4 separate regions of the Homo sapiens genome follow, and regions 2, 3 and 4 are each linked to region 1. The links come from fine-mapping of genetic effects on gene expression. A gene starts in region 1. Each other region holds a variant in brackets. All regions are shown on one strand. Distances are between the middles of the regions.

The links. PIP is the estimated chance that this variant, and not a neighbour inherited with it, causes the effect.
Region 2: its variant is fine-mapped to the expression of ENO2 in whole blood (TOPMed, PIP above 0.99).
Region 3: its variant is fine-mapped to the expression of ENO2 in whole blood (INTERVAL, PIP above 0.99).
Region 4: its variant is fine-mapped to the expression of ENO2 in whole blood (TOPMed, PIP above 0.99).

What each region holds. Positions count from the first base shown.
Region 1 is chr12:6,909,997-6,917,996 of GRCh38, reverse strand. ENO2 (enolase 2) reads right to left here and starts at 3,417. Exons shown (of 12, transcript NM_001975.3): 1 at 3,338-3,417; 2 at 2,080-2,176; 3 at 1,485-1,580; 4 at 1,268-1,326; 5 at 890-959; 6 at 283-416; 7 at 1-57. The coding sequence starts at 2,164. LRRC23 (leucine rich repeat containing 23) reads right to left here. Exons shown (of 8, transcript NM_001135217.2): 6 at 7,971-8,000; 7 at 4,970-5,267; 8 at 3,768-4,106. The coding sequence ends at 4,994. RefSeq lists enhancers at 1,785-2,424, 2,425-3,066, 3,745-3,914, 3,945-4,014 and silencers at 3,423-3,613, 3,145-3,634.
Region 2 is chr12:6,931,207-6,939,206 of GRCh38, reverse strand. It overlaps ATN1 (atrophin 1), which reads right to left. Exons shown (of 10, transcript NM_001940.4): 2 at 5,179-5,367; 3 at 4,894-5,031; 4 at 4,629-4,742; 5 at 1,646-3,660; 6 at 1,140-1,362; 7 at 30-726. The coding sequence starts at 5,205. Among named protein-coding and RNA genes, the nearest start is that of ATN1, 7.2 kb to the right of the region's middle. RefSeq lists a silencer at 1,609-1,678. The variant C/G (reference allele first, on the strand shown) is at 4,056.
Region 3 is chr12:6,871,834-6,879,833 of GRCh38, reverse strand. It overlaps SPSB2 (splA/ryanodine receptor domain and SOCS box containing 2), which reads left to right and starts at 6,531. Exons shown (of 3, transcript NM_032641.4): 1 at 6,531-6,588; 2 at 6,837-7,596. The coding sequence starts at 6,933. It overlaps LOC105369632 (a long non-coding RNA gene), which reads left to right. Exons shown (of 4, transcript NR_135083.1): 3 at 2,234-2,335; 4 at 3,920-4,070. RefSeq lists silencers at 6,122-6,571, 7,752-7,871 and an enhancer at 6,962-7,201. The variant T/A (reference allele first, on the strand shown) is at 4,094.
Region 4 is chr12:6,855,601-6,863,600 of GRCh38, reverse strand. USP5 (ubiquitin specific peptidase 5) reads right to left here. Exons shown (of 20, transcript NM_001098536.2): 3 at 7,780-7,846; 4 at 7,451-7,584; 5 at 7,151-7,296; 6 at 6,710-6,894; 7 at 5,878-5,972; 8 at 4,984-5,177; 9 at 4,060-4,131; 10 at 3,363-3,450; 11 at 3,110-3,235; 12 at 2,495-2,648; 13 at 1,984-2,158; 14 at 1,043-1,131; 15 at 224-415. Among named protein-coding and RNA genes, the nearest start is that of USP5, 7.5 kb to the right of the region's middle. The variant T/C (reference allele first, on the strand shown) is at 3,522.

The DNA of each region.
Region 1 (8,000 bases):
CTCCTGCATGGCCAGCTTGTTGCCAGCATGAGAGCCACCATTGATCACGTTGAAGGCCTGGGGAGCCACAGAAAGACAGAAGGGTCAAAGAGCCCCTCCCTGCCCGCCCCAGGAGTGTTAACCCAAGATCCCAAACTTCCCCCAGCTTTCCGGACTAAGTCTCACGTCCCCATCCTTCCTCTTTACCTCCCTCAATTCACTTTCCTCCCATCATTCCTCATGAGTTGCATGCTCCCTCCCCCACCCGCCCCTGGGAGAGCCGCAGGCTGGCTTATTGCTCACCGGCACAGGCAGGATGAGGTCTGAGTTCCCGGCCAGCTGAGCAATGTGGCGATACAGGGGCAGTTCCCGCTCAGCTGCCCCTGCCTTACACACGGCCAGAGACACACCCAGGATGGCATTGGCCCCAAACTTGGCTAGGAGATTATAGAGGAAGGTGCTGAGCACAATGTCCCCTTCTCCTTTCTAGCTCCTGCCTCCATCTGTAGTCTCCAAAAGGAGCCAGTAAAGGAGACCCCCTCCTCCCTCCCCACCCCTGCCCCAGCAACACCTCATCCATGCTCTCTTGAAAACAGCAGGGAGAGGAATGGGTGGGGAGGAGGAGATTGGAAACGGCAGAGAGCCACACCTCTTTCTAAATATCCCTGAGACCACAGACTCTCTCAGGCCATCCCCCTCCTCTGTATGCTGCAAAGAAGGTCTTCCTTCTGCCTACTGTCGGTCCTTCCCTCTGCAGCTAAACTCATCTCCCCTTGCTCTGGCTTTGAGAGGAGAATGCCCCTGACAGTCATTCCTGAGGAAGCCACTACAGCACTGGCCCTTCAGCTCTCTATCTGCTCCACGCCTCCCCACCCTGACGCTTCCCCACTTTCTCCCGGCCCCGGCTCACATTTGTTCTCAGTCCCATCCAACTCCAGCATCAGGTTGTCCAGTTTCTCTTGCTCCACCACAGAGAGACCCTGAGGGCAGAGCCTCCATCACCCAGGGCCAGGCTGGAGGCTGAGCCCTAAGGCAGAGGGTCCCCTCATTCACACCCAAGCTCACATTTGGCCAGGGTCCAACCAGGTCCCTGTGACAGGGGCCTACCTGGATTAGGGGACCTGAACTCCCATGGGAGCAGGGTGCATTAAGGAAGCTGTTCCCCACCCTTCCCCCTTGTAACCATGATTCCTAAGAGTGGGCCTTCTTTCTTCCCTTCCTCCTGCCCTGCTCCGGGATTCCTTCCAGAACTCTGGCCCTGCTATCCCCAGCAAAGAGCAGGCCTCACTGAGCTGATGAGGGCTGGCGCGATGGTGGAGTTGATGTGGTCCACTGCCTTCAGGACACCTGGGGAAAGGAAGAGGCTGGACTGGGTCGGGCCAGGAGGGGCCGGAAGGGATCAATGGGAGGAGGGGAAGCCATGCTAGAGGAGGACTGGGGACTGGTGTGAGGTAGGGGCATAAGGCTGAGGTGGGGGAGAGTCTGGAAAAGAGAAGGGACCTCACCTTTGCCTAAGTAACGCTGTTTGTCTCCATCCCTCAGCTCCAGGGCCTCATAGATGCCCGTAGAGGCTCCACTGGGCACTGCAGCCCGGAAAAGACCTAAAGGAGGAACATGGAATGAGAGGGAGTGAAGAGGACACAGGGGCCAGGGAGTCCTTCAGCCTTCTGGCTCTAAACTGCCTGCCTACCACATCTAGCTCTCTCCCCACACTGCTCCCTAACATCCCCCCACCCCCACCCCACACACACACTGAGGCAGATGCACAAGAAGTGGCCTCCTCATCCACCCATCTGAGGCCCCACATGCACAAGTGGGAGCCCGCAGAAAGAAAATTGCTTGCAGCACACGTCTGCACACATGCAAGTGCACAGGCAGACACACGGAGGCAGGACATGCCTCACACGCTAAACTCGAACACAGACCCACCTACCCTGGCTCCCCGGACAAGGAGGATCCAACCGCCACAACCCAGGCTTGTGAGCCTGGCCCAGCACCCCATACCCCTGGGTATCAAAAAAGGCCTCCGAACCCCTGGCCGAACCCAGCCTGGCCGTGGAAAAGCTAGGGCTGTAGGAAGGCCCATGCCACACCCATTACCTTTGGCAGTATAGAGATCCACCTCCACTGTGGGGTTCCCGCGGGAGTCCAGGATCTCCCGGGCCCAGATCTTCTCTATGGACATGATGGCTGGGATCTCCTCGGGTGGAAGGGAAGGAAGGAGAAAGATAAGAGGCTTAGAGGGGTGGAGCCTGAGATCAATGGGCGGGGCGGGAGGCTGGGAGGGATGGGAAAGAGGTTACTGCAGTGGGTGGGGGGTGGGTAGGGAGGCGCTGGCTGCAGTCTAGGGCTGTAGAAGGGATTCCCCCTCCCCCCTGGGAAGAGGAGAAGGTCAATGCAGTGAGGAAGGGGAGGTCACTGCAGTGGGGGGCGGGGTAAGATCAAATGATGAGATGGGAGAACACTGCAGTGAGGAGGGGAGGGGCACGACAGTGGTTCCCGCGCCTCTTTGCAGCTTGGCCAGCCGGTGGGGTTCCCCCAGATCTCCTCAGAGCGGAATGGCTGCCAGGCTTGCATTTCTCCTGGGAGCCAAGAAGAGGATGGGCTGCCTGGGCCTCTCTTCCAGAGCCCCCATACCTCCCCAACTTAACACCCCAGCTGCCTGAACACTGCCCCTTCCCCAAGGTCCCACTCTCTCCCAAACGTGTATCCCTCCTCTTCCCGCGAAAGGCGCATGCAATACAGGTGTCGGGGAAGAGGGTCCTGAGAAAGGCCCTGCAGTCCCTGGGGGTTGCAGCGGGAAGTGAAGAGGATAAGAGCCGGTGGGGAGTGGAGGCGAGCTGGGCCTGTCCTCCCCTCTGCGCCTCGACAGATCCCCACTTCTTCCATCTCTCCCCCGTGCAGCAGAGGGGAGGAAGCGCGAACGGAGAGGGGCGCCGTGGGGAAGAGCAGGAGAGAGGGGAGTCCAAGGGAAGTCTGGGGGAGGTGAGGAACGGTGAGAGAAGACATTTCCCCAAATGCAAACCAAAAGGGACGCTCTAGGATAAAAATGCACCGCCCGGAGAGGCTCCCAACTTAGAAACAAATAGAACCGTAGATGAGGGCGAGCACCGGGAGAGAGGCAGGCAAGGGTGGAGAGGCGCAGTTAGAGATAGGCGCGCAGAGGGCCAGAAAGCGAAGGCAGCGGGCGGGGAAGGCCAGGGAGGGAAGGCGCCCTGGGCGCGGGCGGCGGAGCAGGTGCGCAGCTGCACCGGGCCAGAGATGCGGAGAGGTGCGCAGCGGCACCGGGTAAAGGAGGCAGGGGCGCCGCGGCGAAGGGAGGGGGCCACAGGGGCTCTGGGCCTGGCGGGGGCTTCACCTCGGGACTGCAGACTCAGACGGTGGTAGTGGCGGTGGCGGTGGCGGTGGCGACGGCGGCGCTGAGAGAGCGGGAGTGGCAGTGGCGGCGGCGGCTGCGGCTCCCGGGCGGCGGGCGGAGGAGGCGCCTATAGGGCCGCGCGGGCGCATGTGACCCGGAGCCCCCGATGAGTCAGGAGCTGCCGGCGGAGGCGCACGTACGAGCGCGGGTGGGGGACCGACGAGGGTGGAGTGGGGAAGGGAGGAGGATGGGGGAAGGGTGGGGGCACCCACGACCTGGCCCCAGCGCACACAAGCGCTCATACCCACGGCCCGACCCACTCGACAGTAACAGGCAGAGCCGCACCCCTGTAGCCCGGGTACGAAGGCCCACACTGCCAGTGAAGCCCAAGACAGCCTCAATGTCTCACAAACCCGGTCAGACACAGGAGCATCACTCTGTTTCTTTATTGGAAATCCGAACACCCCAGCCGCCTTCGCAAGTCTCTCCAACCACTCCTACCAGCACCCCGCGGCCCACGCGGTCTTGGCTCTCACCCACGCCTGCCCGAGGGCGGCCCCCGGCCTAGGCTCCAGGCAACGCTCAGGCCTAGGCACCCCATTCTGCACCCCACACTGCCCAGAGGACCGGCACAGAGCAGATCCTGGGCCTCAGGTTGTGATGAATTTCCAGCTTTGGGGCAAAAACAGGCATCCTCTGTTCTCTGTCATACATGTGGTGGCTGCCCCTGGGAGTCTGATCAGGTCTGAAGGCCAGCGTCTTTGATCTCCTGGAGGTAGAAGACAGAAGTAAATAGGGACCAGGCGCTGTGGCTCACCCCTGTAATCCCAGCACTTTGGAAGGCGGAGGCGGGCAGATCACGAGGTCAGGAGATCCAGACCATCCTGGCTAACGTGGTGAAACCCCGTTTCTACTAAAAATACAAAAATTAGCCAGGCGCGGTTGCATGCGCCTGTAGTCCCAGCTACTCGGGAGGCTGAGGCAGGAGAATTGCTTGAACCCAGGAGGTGGAAGTTGCAGTGAGCTGAGATTGTGCCACTGCACTCCAGCCTGGAGACTAAGCAAGACTACCTCGCAAAAAAAAAAAAAAAAAAAAAAAAAAAACAAACAGAGGTAAATAAAGCCTCTCCCCTATCTAAAGTGCCTGGCGGCCACCCTCATCTCTTCAGTCTCTTTTTGCCTCACTCTGCCCTCTTTTCTTCCCCCATCTCTGTGTCCTGTTTTTAGCTTCAGATTTTTTGTGCTGGATCTTCCTCTCCTGCTTCTCTCCTAGGTCCAGCTGCATACACCACCAACTTTCCCCTGCAGCCCCTACCATGCACCCACACCTGTCCTTTCCTAGCCGACTTCACTCTGTGTCAGGTATGGCTGCCCCACCCCCCACCAACTCCTCTGCCTGCCACCCCAATTCTTTTCACTTACTCTTCTGGCCTCCTAAGTCTTTCTCAGCTGGTCCCAGGCCCCTTGGGTCCCTTTTCCTCTCCCTGACTCCTAACCCTCCTCTCTTTAAGGGTCCTGCTTGTCTGATGCTTTCCTCTCCCACCTCCTTCTGCAGCAGCTTCCCCTCTTGCCTCTTCCCCTACCTGCCCAGCCCTTGGCCTCCTCCCACTGCCTCCCTGCAGGCTTCCTTACTATCTTTAGAGGCTAGAACTGCTGCTAGATCAATGACTGTTCGGGTTCCAGGTCACGCTGGGGCTCAGGCTCCTGCTCCTTTTCTTCCTTCAGCCTCTGTCGAATCACATCAGCCTCAGCCCGTTCCTCCTCCTCATAGAATTCCTTGTCCAGGCGTTCAAGGTATGGCATCTGCACCAGGGCCTCCTGGCGGTAGCTGGTTTCGTCCGTGCATGGGTTATCAAGCAGCACCAACGCTCGCAGCTTGGGCAGGTCTCGAAGCTTGGCCAGCTCCCCCAGGTTGGCCACCATGTTGCCCCTGCCAGTGTGGTCAGGAGGGGTTCATGCAGGAATAATGGGCTTTGGTTGCCAGTTGCTAGGAATGGGGCCTCTGGGGGACTCTCGGGGTTCCAGTGTCCCTAGAAACACTGTGAGGACTGGCCTGCCAAGCCTTGCCAGATTTACTGCAGAGGTGCTGTGTGACCCCGCTCTGGTCCTGCTTCTGCCCTTCAAGGAATCCCTAAGTGCCATATTCTACTCTGTAATACATTCATGTGTTCTTTTGGTGCAGCAAAGCTAGGCCACAACCCTGTCTTGTAGCTGGGGAGGAGAGGGCAAATTTTCCTCACAGGGAGAGACATTTTCTGTGATCACACCTAAATGGAGGGTAGAAGGTAGGACCCAGCCTGGGCAACATAGCGAGACCCCATCTGTACAAAAGCTAAAAATAAAAAAATTAGCTGGGCGTGATGGCATACACCTGTAGTCCTTGCTACTTAGCTGAGGAGGAGGGATTGCTTGACCCCAGGAGTTTGAGATTACAGTGAGCCGAGATCGAGCCACTGCACTCCACCCTGTAGGACCTAGGTCAGTGGACAAGGAACTGGGATCTAAGCTGGAGTTTAGGGTGGTGGATGCTCGGTTCGTGCTCTCCACAAAGAGAACCTAAGGCTATGGATGGGTTGGAGCCTCCCAACCTGAAGAATAAACTTCATCTCCTAATGTGCCTCATTATATGATACTCTGTTTTTATTTTATTTTTATTGAGACAGGGTCTCACTATGTCACCCCGGTTGGGGGTGCAGTGGCATGATCATAGCTCACTGCAGCCTTGAATTCCTGGGCTCAAGTGATCCTCTCACCTTAGCTTCCTAAGTACCTCCAGGCATGTGCCACCACACCTGGCTAATGTTTAAATTTTTTGTAGAGACTGGGTCTCACTATGTTGCCCAGGTTTGTCTTGAACGCCTGGCCTCAAGCAGTCCTCTTGCCTTGGCCCCCCCAAAGTGCTGGGATTACAGGCGTGAGCCACCATGCCTGGAATTTTATTTATTTTCATGTTCTGGCTTTAAGCTTTTATGAAATCTATTTAAGTGTTTCAGCCTGATCTCATGGTCGTGCTGAGCCTCATGCAGTGTTTCTCACCAGGAGGGCTACAGGAACTTTGTACTGGACTCTGCCATACATTGTTGGATGCTTAGCATCTCTGGCCCCAGAGGCACCTGCCAATCATTGAGACACCCTCACCCCCCTCCACACACACACCCGACTTACTCTCAAAACATCCCCATTTAATAGCCACTCAGGAAGGGTCCATCATGCCTGTCTAGATCATTAACAGGAAGATGGCACAGATACACACCCCACCAGATCCGTGTGGCAGAGTTCATGAATAAGAGAATGCCCAGGGGGTCAGGATGAGAGTTGGGGCTTCCAGATGCAACCACCTCTCCCTACTTGGAGATGCTCTTTCCATTACCAGCTCAAGAATCTGGTCTTGTTGACTAAGGAAAGAGGCAGTTTCCTTACATGTTTGCTGAAATAAACACACATAAAGTCCTCCATCCGACAAGAGTTGCTGATCTTCAGTGCCTTTCTACCAAAAGATTTTCTTACAAATGTCCTTCTCTCCTCAAATCTGAGCACATCTTGTGTTTTTTTAATCAGTAAAAAGGTCATCCCTTACAGGTGGGGCTCAGGAGAAGAGAGGCAGGAAATGGGAAGGTGAATTGGGACCGAGGAAATGGAGAAGGGCAGTGGAAACTTATATAGGATAGGGTGAGGAAAAAAGAGTTGGAGCCAGACTGTGAGCCCCTTAGGAACAGGAATCACCTCTGATTCCTTTCTTTCTTTTAGAGACAGCTCACTCTGTCACCCAGGCTGGAGTGCAGTGGCACAATCATGGCTCACTGCAACCTTGAACTCCTGGGCTCAAGTGATCCTCCAACCTCAGCCTCCTGAGTAGCTGAAACCACAGGTGTGCACCACCAGGCTCAGTTAATTTTTATTTTTAATTTAATATTTTAATTTTTATTTAATATTTTATTTTTGTTTTGTTTTTGAGGCAGGGTCTGGCTCTGTCACCCAGGCTGGAGTGCAGCGGCTTTATCTCAGCTCACTGCAAACTCCACCTCGAGGCTCCAGCGATCCTCCCGCCTAAGTCTCCTGAGTAGCTGGGATTACAGGTGCCTGTCACCATGCCTGGCTAATTTTTGTATTTTTGGTAGAGATGGGATTTTGCCATGTTGCCCAGACTGGTCTTGAACTCCTAGGCTCCAACGATCTGCCCACTTCGGCTTCCCAAAGTGCTAGAACTACAGGTGTGAGCCACCATGCCGGGCCATTATTTTCACTTCTGTAGAAACATGGTCTCACTAGGTTGCCCAGGCTGGTCCTGAACTCCTGGCCTCAAGTGATCCTTCCTCCTAAAGTGCTGGGAGTACAGGCATGAACCACCATGCCCAGCCTCTGATTGCTTTAAATGTCCCCAAAACACAGCACAAGGCCTGGCACATAGCACATTCTCAATAATTGTGGATTGAATGAATAAAAATTCAGGGGTCACAAGCTATAAGGGATTTAGTGTTGCAACTCAGTGCAGAAGAAAGGAAGGAAAGCCGGGCTTTCCTTGAGAATCCAGCTGTGGGCTAGGACTGGGGGATTGGGCCAGGGAAGAACACAGACTCAAAAGCTGCACCTGGTCAGGGGTAGGGGCAAGGTGGGGCTTGGAGAGGGTGCATACCTCAGGTTGAGGTACTGCAATGATTTCATT
Region 2 (8,000 bases), 21 kb before region 1:
GGGCCAGGGCAAGGAAGGAGGGGTCTCACCTGCATGGATAGCATCTTGCTGGTGCAGGTGCAGGTGCGAGTGGATGTGGGAGTGCTGGTGGTGATGGGGAGTCACATTGAGCATCTGCAGCCGGGCCAGTGGGTCATTGCCCAGGGCCGCCACCCTTTCTGCGTGCTGCCTCTCAGCTGCCAGCCGCTCAGCATAGGACATGTCAGGCCGCAGGGCTGGCCCAGCTGCCAGCGCTAGACGTTCTCGCTCCAGGGGCCCCAGGCTCGGATGAAAGGGGAAAGGGTGCAGGCCAGGTGGGCCAGGCTGCAGAGCCAGGCCCCCATGTCGGGGAAAGGGATCCAAGCCCGGCCCAGGGACCCCATGTAGGGGTTCCAGCTCACTAGGCTTCACCTCAAAGCCAGGCTTGAGGCGGTCACGGAGGTCTCGTTCACGGGCTTCCCGTTCCCTCTCCCGGGCAGCTGGATCACTGCTGTACAGGGCCGGGACATTGTAACCCAGGAGCCCCGGGTCCACTGCCCCCAGGGGCACGTAGAATGGATGGTTGCGATTGCCAGGAGACATGACATGAGGCCGGGCATATTCACTGAGAGTGCGCAAGGCTGGAGTGTCAGGACCCAGGTAGGGGGGCACTGTAGCCACCGCACTGCCCGGTTCAAATGGAGGGCGATGGGGCACTGGGCCCAGAGATGGGCATTCCACCGGAGCACGGCCCTCCTGAGCCAACTTCTGTGGGATACAGGGAAAAGTGGAGTCAAAGCGGCAGTTATGAAAAGAGGTGGCTGGTTTTAAGCTGCCCATTTGTTTCGACAGCCGAATGCCAAAATGCCTCAACTCATTGAAACTCTGCCCACCTGGAACTTAACTGCGGCCCCCGCTCCCGAATATTTGCCCTTCTTGGGATCCACAGGTAGTCCCATCTGAGCATGCCTTTTCCCAACCCAGGAATGCAGATGGCTCTCGCTGAAAACCTTTTGGGCTCCATTTCCTGGGCTGCAGTGGTACCTCCCCTCCGACAGGTGGCGACGTGACTCGCCCGCCCACCCAGCCACAGCCCCGCAGCGTAGCGTAGCGCAGCGCAGCGCAGAGGGAAGGAAGGAAAGAGGGAAAGAAGGCGGTGGCGCAGGCAGTGACGCACTCACCACGCTGCGTTCAAGCTCGCGCTCCTTCTCGCGCTCGCGCTCTTTCTCGCGTTCCCGCTCGCGCTCGCGCTCCTTTTCTTCGCGCGCGCGCTGCTCGGCCTCGCGCCGCACCTTCTCCACCAGGTCGGCCCGCTTCTTGGCCAGCTTGGAGCCCTCCAGTGGCACGAAGTACAGGTCGCTGCGCGCGCACGAGTTGAAGCCGCGATCCAGGTGTTTGTTGAACCTGCCGGGCGTGGAAGCAGCGGGCGCTCAGGCGGTGCGAGCTGCCCGATGGAGCCCGCAGCGCCGCGGCCCCGGCGAGTGCTTGTAGCCCCCGCCTCAAAACCACCCCTGCAGGCTGTGAGCTGCTGCGGGCCTCACTGGCCACTAGGCCTGGACGGAGGAGAGGGGCGTGCTTTTCTAAAACACTACACCAGCGCAAGGCCCCTCCCTGCTACTCCCTCTCTCGTCGCCGCCTTGTCGTCGTCCCCTTTCCAGGCCCACCTCCGCCCCACCTGGCCGCTCACCTGGCAGACTGACTGGCATGGCTGGGTACATCTACCACCTTGGGAGGGGGCGAGGGGCTGCGGGCTGGGGGCACCGGGCTCTCGGGGGTCTCATACTCCTCAGCCGGCTCCTGTTTGATCTGCGTGGCGCTCAGGGGCGGCCCTGAGGCAGGGGCCGCAGGTGGTGGTGGCAGCGATGGCAGGCCTGAGGGCCCCGCAGGTGGCAGGGGCCCAGGTCCCACGGTGGGCGAGCCCGGCTTGAAGGTCCCTGGGCCTGCAGGTGGCGAGGTTCCTCGATAGCCCGGTGGGGTCCCCGTTCGGAAGGAGGGAGGCGACCCGGGTTTGTATCCGGGTGGGGTGGCTGTCTTGTAGGCCCCCGGGGACGGGGCTCTCTTTCCGTACGGTGGGGGCCCAGGTGGGGAGGCCGTTTTGTAGCCTGCTGGCGAGGAAGCCACGGTGGCAATGACCGTGGAAAGGGTAGCCGAAGAGGTGGTGACCGTAGGCACCGGTGGGAAAGGGTAGGGCGCCCCTTGAGGGCCCTGGGAAGGGGAGGGGTGTGAACATGGGTAGGACCCTTGAGAAGTGGAAGAGGAAGAGTTGGAAGAGGAAGAGACTGGAGGGCCATTGGGGCCTGCTTGGCTGTAGGACACCTGGCTGTGAGGTGGGGGCAGGTGTGCTGGCCCTGGTGGGTAGGGCCTCAGAGACCCCAGGGAGGGAGACATGGCGTAAGGGTGTGCGTGGTGGGAGCTACCGCCCTCCAGTGGGTGGGGAAATGCTCCAGGAGGAGGGGGCCCAGAGTTTCCGTGATGCTGCTGCTGCTGCTGCTGCTGCTGCTGCTGCTGCTGCTGCTGCTGTTGCTGTTGCTGGTGGTGATGGTGATGTGTTGAGACTGGTGGGTGGGCGGTGGACTGGGCCCCAGTAGAGGGAGGGAAGGGGCCTGGATGGGCATTGCTGTTGGCTAAGAGGCGGCCATAGGGAGGAGGTGGTGGGGGACCCTGGCTCCACACAGCCTGGGATGGGAGAGAAGGCTGAGTATACTTGGGGGGCTGATTGGAGACAGAGAGGCTTGTTGGGGGAGGGAAAGAGTGGGGGTAGCTGGGCAATGCCTGGGAAGCTGGGAAGGGGGAGGCAGAGGAAGAGGAGGAAGAACTGGAAGAGGAGGCTGCTGCAGAGCTACTACTAGAGGATGAATAAGGAAACCTCATGGGGGGCGCTGGAGCAGAAGAGGAAGCAGGAGGCAGAGAGTGGGGTGAAGGAGCCAGAGTTGGGCCCTTCTCTGGGCCAGGAGGAAGTCCACCCATACCCTGTCCCATGGCGTGGGGAGAGGGCAGATGACCAGGTAGTGGTTGGGCCCCCAGGCCAGGGGGAGAGGCTGATGCATTGTTGAGGGGTCTCAGGGCAGGTGGGGGAGGCAGGTTCGGTGTCACATGGGGGAAGTTGGCTGGTGGTGGAGCAGAAGGTAGGTTCCCACCACCCACTGGAGTGGTAGGCGGCTTTGTTGGGGGAGCACCACTAGCCCCAGAGCTTGATACTGAAATGGGAGTAGTGGGTGGGGGGTGCTGCTTACCCCCATTAGGGCCCCCCACTGATGAGGCAGCCCCTCCCCCCTTGGGACCCATTGGGGGTCCAGACAAAACTCCACCAGTGCCCCCAGGATAGAGCTGTGGGTGAGGGGGAGGGGCCCCAGGAGGAGCCTGGAACATTCGAGATGTGGGGGGCTCCATGGGAGCATGATATCCAGTGGGTGTCACAGAAGGATGGGGTTCAAAGCTAGCCTCTGGCTGTCGAGGGGTGCTGTCTGGCGGTTGAGGGGAAGGAGGAAAGAGTGGAGGTGGGTGGTAGGGGCGGGCTGGGCCCTGGGACAGGCCAGAAGATGAGTCAGAGTCATTCTCCACACTTCCAGGGCTGTAGATACTGGGGGACGTGCTTCGGTTGTCCTGGTCGATATCCCTAGGGTCGCTGCTGCCATCATCATTAAGGCTCCGCCCGTCCAAGCTATCCAGATCGGAGGGAGACTGTGGCCGAGGGAGTTCCTGCTGTAGAAAAGGGAAGACTCATTTTTTCTCTTTTCCTTTCCTGCTTCCCTGAGATTTGGGGCTCTCTTGCATAAAATCATTTCCCCTCACAGCACACTGTTGTACTGTGATGTGGTGAGTACTCTTGCTCAAGCCCACCTCTTACCATCTGGGGATTTCTCACTTTCCTCACATTCTTGGCTGCTCCCTAGCAGCCAGTCTTGTTTCCCGCCTGTAAAACCCTATTCCTTCCTCAAGGATCCATCTCAAGCACCTTGTCTCTACCCACAGCTGACTCCAACTCCCTGTCTTCCACCATCTCATAACCACCACTTTAACCATCCTCCATCCCCCAAGCCCTTGGTTTTTATACCACTTCTGGCCGGGCACAGAGGCTTACACCTGTAATCCCAGCA[C/G]TTTGGGAAGCTGAAGCGGGCGGATCACTTGATGCCAGGAGTTCCAAACCAGCCTGGCCAACATGGTGAAACACTGTCTCTACCAAAAATACAAAAATTAGCCGGGCATGGTGGCTCATGCCTATAATCCCAGCCACTCGGGAGGCTGAGGCACAATTGTTTGAACCCAGGAGGCGGAGGTTGCAATGAGCTGAGATTGTGCCACTGTACTCCAGCCTGGGTGACAGAGCGAAACTGTCTCAAAAACAAACAAACAAAAAAAAACAATAAAAAAGAAAGACCACTTCTGCATTTTCCTTAAGATTTATTTGTTCCTCCGACTAAGACTTCTCACCCAGAGACTAGAATCCCCCAACTCTTCTGGTCCCCTTTGGCCCTGCCTGGTCATCTGGTGGTCTGTCAAAGCTCTAAGAATCTCTCTGGCATATTATAGACAGAACTGCTCTCATAAGCACTATGATCTGGCCTTTCTCTTATGTCCCAGGAGAGATCCAGCTAAGAATAGTGAGCATAAGCAAGTCTGAGAAAAGAATGGTCACAAGATGGGTCAGGATGGCGACAAGGGTTTCCCACCTCAGTTTTGGTCTTTTTTGGTGCATTGGTCTCCTCACTTTCACTCTCTGAGATCTCCTCACTCCGACCCTGCTTGTTGACCTTTGGGGTGGAGGCTTCCTCTACTCGGGCCTTCTGTTAGAGAGAAAGAGAAAATTCCTGTCTTTTCCCTACCTCCCGAGCTCCACCGTTACCCTCTGCCAAACAGGAAGTTCCCCCACAACACACACACACCCTCAGCCCCAGTGCCTTGGGCATCCTGTGGGAGGACCTGAGGACAGAATACCTTGGCTGTCTGCCTGGACTTCTCAGCTTTGCCATCACTGCTGGACGTGCTGACCCCTCCAGGGGAGGCCCGGCCCCTCGATCTCAGTTCTTCCCGGGGCCCAGGGGCCTCTTTCTTCCGTCCACTCCTCATTGACATCTACAGGAGGAGGAAGGAGGTAGGTAACACTGTTCTTTACATTGCACCTAACTTTATGGTGCACATTATTTGTTCTTCTTCTCTAGACCCTTCCTCCTAGCTTGCCTGCCCCGCCCCTCATCTTTCATGTCTCTCATTTTAACTCACCGAGTCTTTATTCTGTCGTGTCTTCATTCTTCAGGCTGTGGAGACCCCATTCTCCTCTGCCTGGGCAGCTGAATACAGAAACTTCTCTGCTCCACCCCAAGTTCCCCACAGCTGTGGTCTGGGAAGCAGGATCTCCAAGTTTCCAGTGTGGGCACCTGGAACTTTTGCAGGATCTGTTTTCAATGAAACCTGTTAGAAGGAAACCATCAGAGTCTCCAACTTGGAGAACAGAGTCACAAAGGAATACTATTCTGCTTGTCAGAGAACTGAGCAAGCGGCCCAACCCTAAGCCTTTGGGCCAAGAGGTACAGATACCACAAGACATTGCTGGCATGCCCCATGGGCTACCTTAGCTATCTAAAAGGGAGGCAGATTCTGCTCGAAGTATAATCTCTTTCATCTCTGTAGAGGGCAGAAAATTCGGATGTACCTACAAGCCCCAATCCAGGAGATCACACAGTTTACCCTTCATGATCCCTAAAGGATATTTGTGAACACACACATTCCACGGAGCCTTACAAAGGAACATAAAGAAATGGAGCGGGGCATGGTGGCTCATGTCTATAATTCCAGCACTTTGGGAGGCCTAGGTGGATGGACCACAAGGTCAGGAGTTCAAGACCAGCCTAGCCAACATGGTGAAACCCAGCCAGGCGTGGTGGCACGTGCCTGTAATCCCAGCTACTCAGGAGGCTGAGGCAAGCAAATCACTTGAACCTGGGAGGCAGAGGTTGCAGTGAGCCGAGATCATGCCACTGCACTCCAGCCTGGGTGACAGAGTAAGACTCTGTCTCAAAAAAAAAAAAAGAAAAAAGAAATGACATTGAAGTATGAATTTATTGAATACCTTCTTTATATCAAGCCCTTCACATACATGATTTCATTTAATATTTACAACCAACCCTGAATGGTAAGCATTATTACCCTCATTATATAGGTGAGGGAACTGAGGCTCAAAGATTGTGATTGTGACTAGCCCAACCTCACACAGTGAGGAACCAGTGACAGAGCCAGAATCAAACCCATGTCGGTGACTTCAAAGCCCATGCTCTTTCTTCTATACTTTGCTGTATTCTCCTCAGAAGTTGCTGGGGAGAATTCTCAGAAGGCCTAGATCAGTCACAGAGATATGAAAAGAATCTTTTCTCACATCAGAGTAGGTAGAAGAAGAATGTCCCATTCTATAATACAAAGGAACACAGCCCTACCAATCCCAAGACTAAACCTAGGTAGCCCCAAATTGTAGAACTTCATTTTTGAGAGCCCCATAAAGGACCCATTCTCTAGTACTTGAGCTCCCTAAGGCTAGAGGAAAAGTCAGGGTTTTCACATGAATGATTAAAGACTCAAAATATCCGTGAGCAAACAACACAGATGTACCAGTTTTTAAGCCTATCCTCCTACTTGGTGTAGACTGGGTTACACAGTTTCTCACAGCCAATCCATCCGTATCTGTCTATCAGCAGGTATCTATCTTTATCCAAATCCCTATAGCCAGCTGTATTCATTTGCACTTGTTTGTATTTCTTGCTAAGTGTCAAGTCCCTCCAAATTACTGATTGTAAGATCTTTTGAGAGCAAAAATGGTATTTTCTTACTGTTTTCTTCCTTTCCACTGATGTGTGTGCGCTCTTCTTGTGATTGACCTTTAAACCCACTAACATCAGTAGGTCTTTCTTCCTGAATTAAGTGCTGCTAGCTCCAGTGGGAACAGACTAAGCTTACCCATGTATTCTATTCTGAGTTGGAGGCCTGCTAGGTAAACGGCATGTCCATATTCTGTAGTGTATTTTTTCCCAAGAAACACAGTAATTCTCACTCACCTCCACGGAACCATACTGATGCAGGCAGTAAGGGGTGAGTCTAACCTTTCCAGGAAACTTCACAATTTACTTAGAATCACAAAATTGCTGGGACAGAGCCTATCTTCTGAACTTTCAACTGATGCTCTGCCCAGTAGACTTGTCTTTTTTTTTTTTTTTTTTTTTTTTTTTGAGACAGAGTTTCACTCTTGTTGCCCAGGCTGGAGTGCAGTGGCGTGATCTCACTCACTGCAACCTCTGCCTCCCAGGTTCAAGCGATTCTCCTGCCTCAGCCTCCTGAATAGCTGGGATTACAGGCATGCACCACCACACCCGGCTAATTTTTTGTATTTTTAGTAGAGACAGGGTTTCACCATGTTAGTCAGGGTGGTCTCGAACTACTGACCTCAGGTGATCTGCCTGCCTCGGCCTTCCCAAGTGCTGGGATTACAGGCGTGAGCCACTGTGCCCGGCCAACTAGTTTTCTTTTTTTTTCCTTTTTTTTTTTTTTGAGATGGATCTTTGCTCTTGTTCCCCAGGCTGGAGGTGCTATGGCATGATCTCAGCTCACTGCCACCTCCGCCTCCCAGGTTCAAGCGATTCTCCTGCCTCAGCCTCCCAAGTAGCTGGGATTACAAGCGCACACCACCACACCTGGCTAATTTTTGTATTTTTAGTAGAGACGGAGTTTCACCATGTTGACCAGGCTGGTCTCGAACTCCTGACCTCAGATGATCCACCTGCCTCAGCCTCCTAAAGTGTTGGGATTACAGGCGTGAGCCACCATGCCCGGCCTTTTTTTTTTTTTTTTTTTTTTCAACTACAGCTATTTTCCCACATTTTTTAGTTGTTATGTAGACTGGTTTTAAAATACTATCAACCAAAAAAAAAAAAAAATCCGAAGAACAACACCCACCATAGCAAAAGAGGAAAACAATCTTAAACAAAAAGCACAACAAAGATGACTATTTGTGATTGGTGTATTTTTGCCAGCCCTCCTAGAGAAGGGTGTCCATCTCC
Region 3 (8,000 bases), 38 kb after region 1:
TGCCCGGCCAACAACCATGTTTTAAACAACCAGTAGCAGCAGCAGCAGCAGCATCAGCAGCACAGGCGTGATTAAATTCTCAAGCTGAGCTAGAGCTAGCCATGGGGCAGGCACTGTTCTCTGTCCCCAGGCCTTGGTTATCACATGGGTCCTTCACTACTATTCATCATAGGCTGCCACCCACAGTCATGATGTTATTTATTTTTTGAGACGGGGTCTCGCTCTGTCACCCAGGCTGGAGTGCAGTGGCCTGATCTTGGCTCACCGCAACCTCCAATTCTAGACTCAAGGGATTCTCTTGCCTCAGCCTCTTGAGTAGCTGGGATGGCAGGCGCAAGCCACCAAAGCCTGGCTAATTTTTTGTATTTTTTGTAGAGGCGGGGTTTCATCATGCTGCCCAGGCTGGTCTTCAACTTCTGATCTCAAATCGGCCCACCTTGGCCTCCCAAAGTGCTGGGATTACAGGTGTGAGCCACTGTGCCTGGTCTTACAGTCATGATGTTATTATTGATGTCACATACTGGCAAGCATATCCAGGTTGGGTGGATGACAAGTTTCAGGTTCATATCTTTATTTTAGTATGCTTTCTTCTTCTTTTTATTATTATTTTATTTTCATAGGTTATTGGGGAACAGGTGGTGTTTGGTTATATGAGTAAGTTCTTTCGTGGTGATTTGTGAGATTTTGGTGCACCCATCACCCAAGCAGTATACACTGAACGCTATTTATAGTCTTTTATCCCTCCACCTCTTCCCACCCTTTCCCCCTGAGTACCCAAGGTCCATTGTGTCATTCTTATGCCTCTGCATTCTCATGGCTTAGCTCCCACTTATGAGAACATATGATGTTTGGTTTTCCATTCCTGAGTTACTTCTTAGTGTGCTGCTTTCTTCTTCCTCTTTAAAACATTATAAAATATTTTGTACATCATTTTATATATATATATATATATATATATATATATATATATATATATATATATATATATACAGCCACATAGTGATTTTTACACAAACGAATATATGCTCACCTAACAGATGCAGTAACTGAGGGATTTTCTTTTTCTTTTTTTTTTTTTTTTTGAGATGGAGTTTCGCTCTTGTTGTCCAGGCTGGAGTGCAATGGCTCAATCTCAGCTCACCACAACCTCTGCCTCCCAGGTTCAAGCGATTCTCCTGCCTCAGCCTCCCGAGTAGCTGGGATTACAGGCATGTGCCACCATGCCTAGCTGATTTTTGTATTTTTAGTAGAGACGAGGTTTCTCCATGTTGGTCAGGCTGGCCTCAAACTCCCGACCTCAGGTGATCTGCCTGCCTCGGCCTTTCTTTTTTCTTTTTTCTTTTTTTCCTAGTTCTTGTGGTCCTCAATTATTTTTATTTTATTTTACTTTATTTTTTGAGACGGAGTCTTGCTCTGTCGCCAGGCTGGAGTGCAGTGGCAGGATCTTGGCTCACTGCAACCTCTGCCTTGCGGGTTCTTCTGCCTCAGCCTCCTGAGTAGCTGGGATTACAGGCACGATTCTCCTTCCTCAGCCTCCTGCGTAGCTGGGATTATAGGCACATGCCACCACGCCCAGCTAATTTTTGTATTTTTAGTAGAGACGGGGTTTCACCATGTTGGCCAGGCTGGTCTCGAACTCCTGACCTCAAGTGATCCACCTGCCTCGGCCTCCCAAAGTGCTGAGATTACAGGCATGAGCCACCATGCCCAGCCTATTTTATTTTTTTGTTTTGTTTTCTGAGATGGAGTATCACTCTGTCGCCCATGTTGGAGTGCAGTGGCGCCATCCTGACTCACTGCAACCTCCGCCTCCTGGGTTCAAACAATTCTCCTGCTGAGGGATTACAGGTGCACACCACCACGCCTGGCTAATTTTTTTTTTTTTGTATATTTAGTAGAGACGGGATTTCACCATGTTGGCCAGGCTGGTCTTGAACTCCTGACCTCAGGTGATCCACACGCCTCGGCCTCCCAAAGTGCTGGGATTACAGGCGTCAGCCACCGCGTCCGGCCTATTTTATTATTATTATTTGGTAGAGATGGGGTCTCACTAGTCTTCCAGGCTGGTCTCAAACTCCTGGGCTCAAGCTCCTGCTTCAGCCTCTCAAAGTGGTGGGATTACAGGAATGAGCCACTGCACCCAGCCTACTAAGGGATTTCCAAGGGTAACTTTAACTATGTGACATAATTGTAATTTACTTCTCCTCATTTTCTATTCCTTCAAAATGTAAAGCTTGTGACAGTCCAGCCCCTTCAGCCTGGAGTTCCACCTACCAGTCCCCACATGTGCTGTCTCTCACCAAGGTTGCCAGTGACCTCTGACCAAAACAATCTTGTAAGTAATCAAAACTGAATTTTCTACCTTGTTCTATTCTCCTTGACCCTTCTGTTGCTCCACACTCTCTTTGTCCCCATCGCCCATATTTCACTCACTCATTCTCATAGTTCAACTCCTGACTAAAGACTGACACACCTCCCAAATCCCTGTCTCCAGCCCAGGCCTCTCATTCTGCCTCCAGACCTGCCATTTTCTTGTGTGTTCTGGATGGTTCCATTTGCTTGTGGCTCAGACACCTCAAAAACATATCCTAAACTGAACTCACCATCTCCCTCTCCCACCCTCCTGCCCCTGCCCTCAATTACTCCTCTTTCTGTCATCTCCATCTTGATTGGTGGCACCACCTTCCAATCAATTTTTCCAGGCTAGAAACTTCCCTTTCTCTTTTTTTTTTTTTTTTTTTTTTGAGATGGAGTCTTGCTCTGTCGCCCAGGCTGGAGTGCGGTAGCGCCATCTCGGCTCACTGCAGCCTCCACCTCCCTGGTTCAAGCAATTCTCCTGCTTCACCCTCCGAAGTAGCTGGGATTACAGGTGCCCACCACCACACACAGCTAATTTTTGTATTTTTAGTAGAGACAGGGTTTCACCATGTTGGCCAGGCTGGTCTCAAACTCCCAACCTCAGGTGATCCGCCTGCCTCGGCCTCCCAAAGTGCTGGGATTACAGGCGTGAGCCACTGTGCCCAGCCTCAACTCCATATCTAATCAGTCACCAAATCTTGCCGTTTCATCAGTGTTTCTTGAATTATTTTCATCCTTATTTCTACTGTCCTATTTCAGGCTGTTGACACTTGTCACCTGGGCTGCTGGAAATGGTGTCTTTGCTTCCAGTCCTTTTTTTTTTTTTTTTTTGAGACAGAGTTTCACTCTTGTTGCCCAGGCTGGAGTGCAATGGCGTGATCTCGGCTCACCGCAACCTCCACCTCCCAGGTTCAAGCAATTCTCCTGCCTCAACCTCCTGAGTAGCTGGGATTACAGGCATGCTCCACCATGCCCGGCTAATTTTGTATTTTTAGTAGAGACAGGGTTTCTCCATGTTGGCCAGGCTGGTCTCGAACTCCAAACCTCAGGTGATTCGCCCATCTCAGCCTTCCAAAGTGCTGGGATTACAGGTGTGAGCCATCGCGCCCAGCCAACTTCCAGTTCTATTTCCCTTGAAGCTCCTCTATGTTGCTGCCAGGGTGGTTTTTCTAAAATGCAGATCTGGCCAGGCACAGTGGCTCACGCCTGTAATCCCAGTACTTTGGGATGCTGAGGCAGGAGGATCGCTTGACTCAGGAGTTCGAGACCAGCCTGGGCAACAGACTGAGACTCTGTCTCTATTTTAAAAATTAAGAAATAATAATTTGTAAATTAAAAAAATAAAAATAAATTAGCTCGGCATGGCGGTATGCACCTGTAGTCCCAGCTACTCAGGAGGCTGAGGTAGGAGGATCAGCGGAGCTCAGGAGGTTGTGGCTGCCATGAGTCGTGATCACGCTACTCCACTCCAGCCTGGGTGACAAAGTGAGACCCTGGCTCAAAATATATAAATAAATCAAATGCCTATCTGACCATGTTCCTCTCTTCTTCTATCCTACAGTGGCTCCCCATCACTGGCCTGTCCTATGGGAAAACATTTGCATTCCTTAACTCAGCCTAGAAGGCCTCTGTGACTTGCTGTCTACTTATCTGGCCCTTCTCATGCTTCCTTTCTGGCTGTAGCAACCTTGAAGATATCGTACTTCCCCAAACCCACCTGCTGCTTCTTGCTTTT[T/A]TTCATGCGGACTCTTCTGTCTGGAATATCTTCTACATGCAGCAACCGTAACCCAACCTCCATACTGCAGAGAAGTGGCTCGTCTCAGGCCAATTCCTGGTCATCCTTTTAGATTCAGCCCAGGCTGGGCGCGGTGGCTCATGCCGGTAACCCCAGCACTTTGGGAGGCCGAGGCGGGCAGATCACGAGGTCAGGAGTTCGAGGCCAGCCTGGGCAACATAGTGAAACCCTGTCTCTACTAAAAATACAAAAATTAGCCAGGCATGGTGGTGCACGCTTGTAGTCCCAGCTACTTGGGAGGCTGAGGCAGGAGAATCACTTGACCCCAGGAGGCAGAGGTGAGCTGAGATCACGCCACTGCACTCCAGCCTAGGCATCAGAGCTTAGACTCCGTCTCAAAAAAAAAAAGAGAAAGATTCAGCCCAGTGTGAAGGTGTGAACCTCTTCTAGGACATGAAAAGATTCAGCCCAGGTGTGAACCTCTTTTGGAGATGCTCCTTTCCTAACTGCTTGAACCCCGGATAGGAGTCCTATTCTTTTTACTCCTATAGTACTTTCTTTATATCTCCATAATTTTATTTACTATTACTACATGATACATTATTTTATAAAAGTCTTTGTAACCTCCTTAAGGATTCACTGCTTAATCTCCAGTGCTTAGCACAAATCATTAAATGCGAACCAGAAACTCTTCCAAATGTGTTACATCTATAACCTCATTGGATTCTCACTACCAACCCCATGCAATAGATACTAATGTGATCTCTGTCTTACAGAGGAAGAAACAGGCACAGGGAGGTTCAGTAATTTGCCCAAGGTCATACACACACTGGCCTTCAGGTATTCATGCCCGGGGAGTCTGGTCCCACAGCTGGCATGTTTGCCATTATATTATATTGCCTCCTTATAGTGTCGGCACTCATTAAGCACATTGACAGCTATGCTTGGTGAGTGACTACTATGTACCCAGCTCTGTGCTACATGCTTTACCTGGATTATTTCAACTGCACAACAACCCTGTGAGGTAACTACCATCATTGCTCCTATTTTACATAACAGAAAACTACAGAAATCTGGGGCTGGGCGTAGTGGCTCATGCCTGAAATCCCAGCACTTTGGGAGACCCTGTCTCTAAAAAAAATTTTTTTTTGGCCGGACGTGGTGGCTCACACCTGTAATCTCAGCACTTTGGGAGGCTAAGGCAGGCAGATCACAAGGTCAGGAGTTCTAGACCAGCCTGGCCAACATGGCAAAACCCTGTGTCTACTAAAAATACAAAAAATAGCTAGGCGTGGTGGCAGGTGCCTGTAATCCCAGCTACTCAGGAGGCTGAGGCAGGAGAATCCCCTGAACCTGGGAGATGGAGGTTACAGAGAGCCGAGATCGTGCCGCTGCACTCCAGCCTGGGCAACAAGAGCAAGACTCTGTCTCGAAAAAAATAAAAATAAAAATAAAAATATTTTTTTAAAAATTAGCTGGGTGTGGTAGCACATGCCTGTAGTCCCAGCTACTTGGGAGGCTGAGGTAGGAGGATCACTTGAGCCCAGGAGGTCAAGGCTGCAGTGGGCTGTGATGGCGCCACTGCACTCTAGCCTTGGTGACAGCAAGACCCTGTCTCAAAAAAAAAAAAAAGAGAAATCGGGCAACTTCCCCAAGATCGCGCAGTTAACTAGTGGCATAGCTTCACTCAAACTCGAAGTCTTAATCAGGACACTCTACCAAATGAGATCAACGGCTCAGTAATGGATTGGCATCCAGTATGAAGACTGGACCAGCAGGGAGAACTATGATGCGTACAGCCTAGAGCCTGAAGCAGATTTCACAGCCTCAGAGGTGGCACAGGCTGACTCACAACCCGGGGCAGAAAGGGACCAGCCCAGAAACAGTGACCCAGAATCACAGGGAAGTAGAAATGGGATTCGGCACAATGAAGCCCCTCCTTGACCCCATGCTCCTTACCCTCAGGGGCGCAGGAGTTAGTCGCTCAGGCGGCTCAAAGGTCTTGACGGTGGAGAACACCATCCCCAGGGATTCCCGACGCGGTGATGCCATCAAAGCGTTAATTCTGAGATGGGCCTGCCCGGGTGCGGACTCTGCCGCAGCAAGAGAAGGGTTAACTGCCCCGGGCCTTCGCCGTGGGGGCGGGGCCTCGGGGAGGGTCACAGCCCGGGACTGAGACCCGAGGTTAACCGCCCGGGGTGGGCTCCACGGGGGCGGGGCATGCTCTCCGCGGCTGCTGCCGGTATAGAGCGGTAACTGCCCAGGAGGGGGCGGGGCCCCACAGGGGCGTGGCCTCGGAGCTGCACGGCCGTGGGCGGCGATGAGAGGGTTAAGCCCCAGAGGGCCCTGGAGGGGCGGGGCCGCGGGACGGGCTCGGCCCAAGGGAGGAGCTGGGGGCGGAAGCGGCCGGCGGTCTGCGCCCTGCGCGCCTCGGCTTCTTTCCGCCCGGCTCCTTCAGAGGCCCGGCGACCTCCAGGGCTGGGAAGTCAACCGAGGTTCGGGGGCAGCGGCGAGGGCTCCGGGCGAGTAAGGGGGATGGTCCATGCTGAGGCCCAAATGGGGCGAACTCGCGAGAGTCTCTGGCGACCTGGATCAGATGGGGCGAGGGCAGATGAAGGGCCCAGGAGCTTTGGGGCAGCGAGGAGGGAGGAGCGGGCCCGTTGGCAAACTTGGGTGAAAGGATGGGGTACCTGGGTGACGAGCCCCCGCCAGGATTCTGCTCTTCACGCCCCTTTTCTCCCAGCTCCCTTCCAGGTCAATCCAAACTGGAGCTCAACTTTCAGAAGAGAAAGACGCCCCAGCAAGCCTCTTTCGGGGAGTCCTCTAGCTCCTCACCTCCATGGGCCAGACAGCTCTGGCAGGGGGCAGCAGCAGCACCCCCACGCCACAGGCCCTGTACCCTGACCTCTCCTGTCCCGAGGGCTTGGAAGAGCTGCTGTCTGCACCCCCTCCTGACCTGGGGGCCCAGCGGCGCCACGGTTGGAACCCCAAAGACTGTTCAGAGAACATCGAGGTCAAGGAAGGAGGGTTGTACTTTGAGCGGCGGCCCGTGGCCCAGAGCACTGATGGGGCCCGGGGTAAGAGGGGCTATTCAAGGGGCCTGCACGCCTGGGAGATCAGCTGGCCCCTAGAGCAGAGGGGCACGCATGCCGTGGTGGGCGTGGCCACGGCCCTCGCCCCGCTGCAGACTGACCACTACGCGGCGCTGCTGGGCAGCAACAGCGAGTCGTGGGGCTGGGACATCGGGCGGGGGAAGCTGTACCATCAGAGCAAGGGGCCCGGAGCCCCCCAGTATCCAGCGGGAACTCAGGGTGAGCAGCTGGAGGTGCCAGAGAGACTGCTGGTGGTTCTGGACATGGAGGAGGGAACTCTGGGCTACGCTATTGGGGGCACCTACCTGGGGCCAGCATTCCGCGGACTGAAGGGCAGGACCCTCTATCCGGCAGTAAGCGCTGTCTGGGGCCAGTGCCAGGTCCGCATCCGCTACCTGGGCGAAAGGAGAGGTGAGGCCTGGGGCAGACGTGGGGAGAACTTTCTGTCCCTGGTGGCAGTGGTTTGGGATGGAAACTCTTCTGACAAGAGCAGAGGGGATGGACCTTCATCCAGCCTGCCTCAACCTCTGTTCAGTGCTGGGAAAGGCTAGGGGTCTTCACAGCTGTTATTTAATTTAACCCAACAGCAATAGAGGTGAAACAGGCTTGAGAAAGCAACTTTCTCAAGTTCTCTTGGCCAGTAAATGGTGAACCTTCAGAATGGAGGGAGGAACTGCAGGGATGAGAGAATTCAGGAGATATCAACCCCTGAGCAAGAGGTGCAAAGCGTTAGGTACTGGGTTTGATGTACAGGTCCAAAAGAAGGATGGGCAGAGCCAGGTACCCAGGCTGTATACCGGATTCCCTGGGCTCTA
Region 4 (8,000 bases), 54 kb after region 1:
CCAGGGAGGTAACAAGGGCAGAGAGGCCACTAGCTGGCACTGCTGCCATCCACACCCAGAAGGTGGCTAGGAGTGCGCTGGGGAGGCCCCATGTCAATCAAAGAGGGCAGAGGAAATTTGAAAGGGAGGACAGGAGAAACACAAAGGACAGGGGCAGGGGATGCAAGGCAGAGAGGCCCCCATCAGCACGGGAGAGAGACAGGCAGGAAGAAGAGTCACTAACATGTCGGAGAGGAGAAGTGAGGGGAGCAGAAGGAGTCTTCGTCTTCGTTGCCATAGAAACCAAGGCTACCTTTGGGCTCATCCGGAGTGACCAGGGGTGGGGCAATGTCTGGCAGCTCCTCCTCTCCGGGCTGCAGCCCTGTGCCCCTCAACTGGGAGATGTCGAGCTCCTCTGGCATCTCGATGGACACATCTGTGGGAAAAGGGTCACCTCAGCAGCTCCCGGAGGCCTACCTGGAAAGTGATTCGGGAACCTCAATCCCCTGCCCCCTATGTCAGAACTGCTCTGTAAAGAGGAGCTGCTAAAAGCACGGCACCCATCTTAGGGGTCCCAGTATAAGACAAATAATACTAAGCCTGGGAGTTGGGAGGCCAGGATGCTGGTCCTAGATCTACCATAAATAATCTATGGACAGGGCAGGGGGCCTAGAACTTGTGAGACAGAATGATTTTATATTCCTGTGAGTCTCAACTTCCTTATCTAGAAAATGAAGGTACATCACGAGTTCTCAAATGACAGTCAGGGACCTGTAAGACTCACGAGAATTAATTGTTTCAAGATTATCAAAATGAAAACATTTTACCAATTATTTTAAAAAACTACAAAAATCACTTTTGGTTGTAAATCATACCTATAACAATCAAAGAAGTCTTTTAATATTTTTAGTTAGTGCTTTCAAACTAGATAAATTTTGAAACATTGAAGGTGATTTTTTTTCCTCTTTCAGAGGAAACTTTGAGAAACACTAGTTTATATGTGTTAAAGCCCCTTCTTTTTCTAGCATTTTCTGTGTAACCTCCCTCATTCCAGCAGCCATACCCAGTTTCTTGGGCACCCAGTCTAAGCCGAAGGTGAACTTCTTGATCTGGATGACCAGGTAGTCAGGGAATGAGGCAAATCGTGTGGTCCTAGGGAAGAGAGACTGTGCTGGTACCCAGACAATCCCCAGGGTTTTCCTCTCCTGAAACTCCCACCTGGGGTTCAGCCCCTCATGGGTAGAAGTCCCAATAACCCAGAAGATCCTCCATATTCTTCTCTTCCCCTGGGCAGGTGTCTGATGCCTGTCCTCGGCCAACGAGGAGCAGTAGAGGCCAGAAGGAAGGCTGTCAACAAAAAAAAGAAAAAGAAAAAAGCCCAGGCATGGTGGCTCATATCTGTAATTCCAGCACTTTGGGAGGCCAAGGCAGGACGACTGCTTGAGCCCAGGAGTTAAGAGACCAACCTGGGCAACATAGCAAGACCCACACGTAGGGAAAAAAACATAGCAAGACCCACACATAGAAAAAAAAAAAAAACCCACACAGAGAGGAAGAGCTGTTTCACTGGCAGGAGCAGCAAAGGGCTGGGTAGCTGACTCCCCGAGACCAAAGCCCTTTTTCAGGTCTCACACCCATGCCAGGTGCCAATGGCTAGGCTCAAAGTGTGGCTATTTGCTGGAAATCCAAATTCTGCCCACAGCTGATCCTAAGTGCCTGTGCTCAGCCATGACTGAGGGGCAATGAAGAGAGGCTACACTACAAAGAGACCCTGTGCCACAGAAGAGGGAGTGGTTGGGGCAGGACAAGGTGACAGATAGAGTCAGTACCCGTGTCCCCCCTACCAGGGCCCCTTGGTTCCATCAGGGCCAGATTACCAGCCCAACTGATTCAACCCTGAGGTTCCAACCACAAAGGGATGAAAGAACAGGGAAGAGACAGAAGTATCCTCTGGGATAGCTCTGCCATAGACCCACAGCCTCAGGCCCCGACCAGAGGACTTACTTGACAGCTACTGACTTGGCCTGCAGGGCCGTGCTCCAGAAGTCATCGACCTGCTCAGGGGCCCCGTAGGCCTCCAGGCAAGAGCTGAAGGGCACCTGGGCCCGAACCAGTTCTGGCAGTGCCATCTTCTCCTCTTCGGCTTGCCGCTTCTTCTCCTCGTACTCCAGAAGCTCCTCTGGTGACAGAATGGGTTGGTGGATCCTTCGGAGGGTGCTGCTTCTTTGCCTCCTTAGCCTCTCCCTACTGGCTCTGTGTCCGTATTTCAGTTCCTCTACCCTTCCAAAGCACCCCTGACACATGTCCAATATATCTCGCCTGTTTCCATGCAGCTCTGCTAACAAGCTGAGTGTCCACTGGACGAGGTTAATCTACCTACTCCTGGTGGCCCAGACTGGAACCTTGGCTGGTGAAGCAGGGCATTCCCTGGGCTGTGCTCCCATGAGGTGCCCAAGCATTCCTCCTAGACCTTAGCCTCCCACCGTGCCACGGCCTTGCTGATGGAGCAGCCTACCTTTGTTAAGGGCTGCATCCATGGGCACAGGCAGCTGCATGATGTAGTCAACTCGCTGGGTGTACTTCACCTTCTCTGTGGCCAGGCACTTGATCTTTTCCTCCACCAAGAAGCGGAACACTTCATTAGGATTTTCAGAGCTCCGGCAATTCCTCTATGGGAAAGAGGCAGGGTAGGGAGGTCTGGGCAGCCAGGGAACAGAATGGGGCCTGAAAGGTTCATGGGAGAGTCAGGGAGAGAAGGCAGACTACCACTCGGAACTCAGGGACACAAGAGCAGAGCAGAAACCTTCCCTAATTCACCAACCCCTCCCCATTTCTGGCCCCATCCCTGCACTGAGGGACTGTGTTAGAACACGCTTGTATTTTTCTTTATAAGCAGCAAGTATTCTCTTATCATTGTCTTTGGGCATAATCTGAATTGGGCTTCAAGCCCATCAAGGGTAGGGATCATCACCTTCACTGTCCTCCTCAGGTGCAAGCACTGTTCACAGGGACACAGACTGTTGGGGTTCAGGGATGGGACTGGGTTGGGGCTGATAGAGGGAGAAATGGGCAGGAAGGAGAGCGAGTAAATTGCAGGAAGATGGGGGTGTGCCATCTTGCCAGCCCTTACCTCCACCATGTTGATAAGGTGAAGGAAGAACTCCTGGGCATCCTGCTGCCGGTTGGTGGAGAATTCAGGGTGGCCCTTGCCGATGAGGGCCTTGAACATCCGAGGGGCAATGCCATCTTGAACTTCCTGGGAAGAGTCAGGGCAGGGACTCAGCTGGGGCTCAGTGGCCATCCAGGGGCCTTCTTTAGACATCTCCCAGACCTCAGCTTCCCCACAATCCCAGGGCCTGAAAGGGACAGGGTCCTAGACGCACCTTCTGTTCTGGCACCCGCTCCCCATCGCCCGACTCCGGTACTGGCTTGGAATACTCCCCGGAGAGAAGGCCATGGCCCAGCTTGGCCCTGCATTAATATCCAAGAAAACATTTCACTTCAGTCAACTAACGACCCTGTGTGTCCCCAGCTCAACCCCC[T/C]GCTCGTGGCTCTCCCTAGCTAACTCTCAACAACGTGAAAAACCTTAGATTCTACAGGAACCCAGCTCAAGACAGACAACACGTCCAGAAGACAGTCACCCGAATGCTCCTAATAGGCCAGTGGTGGCCGTGCACGGTGGCTCACGCCTGTAATCCCAGCACTTTGGGAGGCCGAGGTGGGCAGACCACGAGGTCAGGAGATCGAGACCATCCTGGCCAACATGATGAAACCCCGTCTCTACTAAAAATACAAAAAAAATTTAGCTGGGCGTGGTGGCATGTGCCTGTAGTCCTAGCTACTCAGGAGACTGAGGCAGGAGAATCACTTGAACCCAGGAGGCAGAGGTTGTAGTGAGCCGAGATCGCGCCACTGCACTCCAGCCTGGCAACAGAACAAGACTCCGTCTCAAAAAACAAAACAAAACAAAACAAAAAAAGGCCAGGGGTTAAAGTGCTGTGCCCCCCAGGCGGTCAGGGAGGAGGAAGGTATACGGCCATGACTGTCAACAGCTTTCCTACATAGGACCTGGTTACATACACCTGGGTGCTGAAATCCTGGGTAGGGTCCGTCGGGGCATTCTGGAAGATCTTCTCCAGCTTATCCACATACCTAAAAGTCAAGGGAAGGACAGTTGGAGGGGCTCTGGCCTGAGCGCCGAGGAAAAGGGAAGGAAGCAAACATTTACTAACTCTGTGAACGGGCTCCCCTCAAGAGTGGGGAGTTGCTGTGGGTGAACCTTGGAGTCGCTTCTCTCCAGCAACCTGCCTGTTCTCCCCTTCTCAGCTATGTCCAATGTGCAAGCACGCTCGGCGGCAGAGGAGCCGGGGAGGGGGAAGGTAGCCTGGGATTAGGATAAGTGCAGTTCACGTTCTATTGGACAGAACCTGTTGACATGTTCTGAGCATTCACATTCTAATTGTTCCCCAAATTCGAAAGTAAACTCATTTCTGCTGAGAACCTGCCTTTATTCTTAGTGTGCCAAGCCCCCCTCCTCCCCAAGTGCTACATGTCCATGTTAGGTGCTCATCTGATGTCACTGCCCTAAAATAAAGACCACCTGCTAACCCTTGAGTCTGTCAGAAGGCCACAGAGCCCTGGGACTTGGCACTCTGCACTATCAGTGGGGTTTGTGTGTTGGGGTGCTGGTGGTGCAGCTCCCTAACTTGCTCCCCTCACAGCATGTCAGCCAGAGTGTGACAGGAATTATTCTTTTTTTTTTTTAAGAGAAGACAGGGTCTCGCTATGTTGCCCAGGCTGGTCTCAACCTCCTGGGCTCAAGCAATTCTCCCATCTTGGCCTCCCGAAGTACTGGGATTACGGGTGTGGGCCAACACACCCAGCCGATAGGAACTACTCTAAGACTAGAATCAAACACAGAGGTGCTGAGGGAAGCTGAAGGAGGAGTATGCCCAGAGGGTGCTGACCAGGAGGGGGCCTGGGGAAGGAGAGGGCACTACTCACTTCCTCTGGAAGTCAGGGATGCTGAAGAGCACCTGGACCACAGAGTTGAGGTAGCAGCTGTTACCCAGGTTCCGGATGCCTGTGTAGCCAGGCCCAAACAGGGGCTTGAGTGGCACACCTGACTCCTGGATCAGCTCCCATTCACCAATCCGCTGGTTCATGTCTATCTCCAACTCAGTCATCGTCTTGTCTGTCTGTGTGAGAAGGGGCACTTCAGACTGAGTGAGAAACTCAACCCTGTAGTTTTTACCTCGATCTCTCACTGAGTCTAGGATGATACTCAACTGTGGCCTAGAATTTGTGGAATTACAGGCTCAAACATGGGAGGTATGTTGAGTATCGTCCAGTTCAAGTTCTGGAAGGCCACACATAATTGTCCCAGAGGCCCGTTAGTCATCAGGGCCTCTGCTTGAATGAGGAATAAAATTTCCTTCTACCTGAAATGTTTTTCCCATCCTTAAGTTACCCCTAACCTCCTTCACATTGTCAGTTAAGCATCGCTTCCTCAGGGAAATGTCCCTGATCCCTAAACTAGGCCAGGCCACCCTGCTGTCAATTACTGTAGTACCCTCCGCCTCTCTTTCACAGTGCCCACCAGTTTGCAACTATTCACTTATTTATCTGGGAATGTGACTAATGTCTGCCTTTTCTTCTAGAGTAGAACTCTTGTAAGCAAAAACCACATCTGTCTTATTCACACAGCCTCTAGCACATAGTAGGTACTCAGTACTATTCACTGAATAAATGATTTTAGATATTTAAAAGAAGCCTGTGTATCTTGGGGATGGGGTTAACTAGAAGATTTCTCCAAAACCCTACCTCAGCCTCAGGCAAAGAGGAAGGGCCCTCACAGGGGCAGGAAGTAGAAGAATCTGAAGTTGAAGGGGGTCTCACCTTCTGCATCTTCAGCATGTCGATGCCGAAGTGGGACAGGTGCTCAGCCAGGCTGGGGTCCAGGACCATGTCATCCTCATCATATGAGTACACGTCTAGAGCAGGAGGCAGGAAGAGAATCAGGGGAAGTGGCTCAGGACTAGCCAGGCCACCATCCCATCCCTTGCACAGAAGGGACTTGAGGGGACAGAAGGAGAGCCAGTAAGGTCCACCCTCTTGGTTCCCTTGAATATGAGTAATATGAGTGCGGTCATGGCCCTTCTGGGGCTGACGGTCAGGGAAGACAGATGAAACCGGGTGAGGGTTGGAATTACTTGTGATTCTGATTCTACCTGTATAGGATAAGGTAAGACAGGCTTGGTAGGAAAGGGATGAGGATTTGAGTGGGGAGTAATCAAAAATTTAGTCTCATCTGCAGTATTTTCCTTTTTTGAGACAGGGTCTCTGTAGCCCAGGCTGGAGTCCAGTGGTGCAATCATAGCTCACTGCAGCCTCAACCTCCCGGGTGCTCAAACAATCCTCCTGCCTCAGCCTCCTGAGTAGGTGAGACTACAGGCAGGAGCTACCACACCCAGCCAATTTTTCTTTTTTTTTCTTTTTTGGAGAGATGAGGTCTCACTATGTTGCCCAGGCTGGTCTCGAACTCCTAGGCTCAAGCAATTCTCCTGCCTTGGCCTCCCAAAGTGTTGGGATTGCAAACATGAGCCACCGCACCTGACTACTTTCCTTTCTTATCAAGATAATGCATTCATGTATTATACATGTCACACGAAATTACTAACAAATGAAATATATTTAAGCATGAGAGTGGCTGGAGGAGGGGAGGCTGTACCAGCTCCATCAGGGGTGATGGTGCCCAGCTTGACAGCTAACGGGTAGCCTGTCTCTCGGTAGTGCTCCACAGCGTGGTTGTTGCCCCCACTGCCATCGAAGTAGCGTCGCCCACAGAGGATGGAGCCATCAGTCAGGTTGAGCCACAGGTTCTCTCTCATGTCACACTTGGAGCACTTCCAGCCACTAACCCACAGAGAAGAGAATCAGCAGAAATGTGGGTCGGGGATTTGAGGGAGTGGCAGAGAGAGAGGGCTCTGCAGGCCCCCCGCCAATCCAAGGTCTCTCTCTCTTCTCCTCTGGCCATCCCCATGTCGTGTTCATTTCCAAGCTTCCCTTCCTGTCCTGCTCCCTACCCTCTCTCCCACCAGATCCCCCAGAAAAGTGGGCTCCTTGTCCTTGCTCTGGGGGTGGTGCCCGAGGCAGAGGGGCCAGGCCTCACCAGGGAGGGATTCGAGCAGGGTTGTCCAACTGCTTGAGGCTGAAGGCATGCTTAGACACCTGCCGTACTTCCCCATCCCATGCCTGCACCTCCTGCTTGCGGGAGGCTGAGTCGGCCGACAGTAGGGCCTCCACTGCACTGGTCACCTGGGGGAAGCAGAGGGTCAGAGGCAATACCCAACCCCCTGCCCCACATGCCCCTCTTCCCCTTGGCCTTCAGCTTTGTCAGTGCTTGCCTAAGACACCACTACCCTGGCCCATCTTGCTCTAGAATCTTGGGTAGCATAGGGGGCAGTCATACCCGATCTCTGACAATGTCAGGCAGTCCCCCCAGTCCATCCCGGGCAATCTCCAGGTAATCTGGCAAAATGACAATCTTCACATCCTCGTCTAATTCAAACTTCTCCTCGCTAAGGTCAAATCCGCCTTCAACACCTGGAAGGATAGGGAAGAAGAGGGAGAGTAGAGCAATGACAACAGGTCAATGTCCCTCCTCCGAGCCAGCACCTCACTTGCCCCATCCAGAGTTCTAGGGCCATCAATCAGGCCCACTCTTTGGGGCTTTCCTGGTGCTGCTGAGAGCCAGAAAGACCAGCTCAGGGAGAAGAATAGGACTGCAGCGGTGCTCACCAATAGCCAGCCGCGTGGGCTTCTTCCGGGGTGGGTCTCCAGTGCCTGTAGCAGGGTCCTCCTCTTTCTGTAAAGAAGCAGGAAGGGCTGGATCAGCAATGAGCACGAGCGAAGGAACAAGTCGGGAGGAGGGACGGAAGGAGGTAGTGCTTCATCTCAGAACGGAATAAAGCTAAAAAACATCTGTGCCAAGCTTTAATGACACAAAAGTAGGTGAAAAA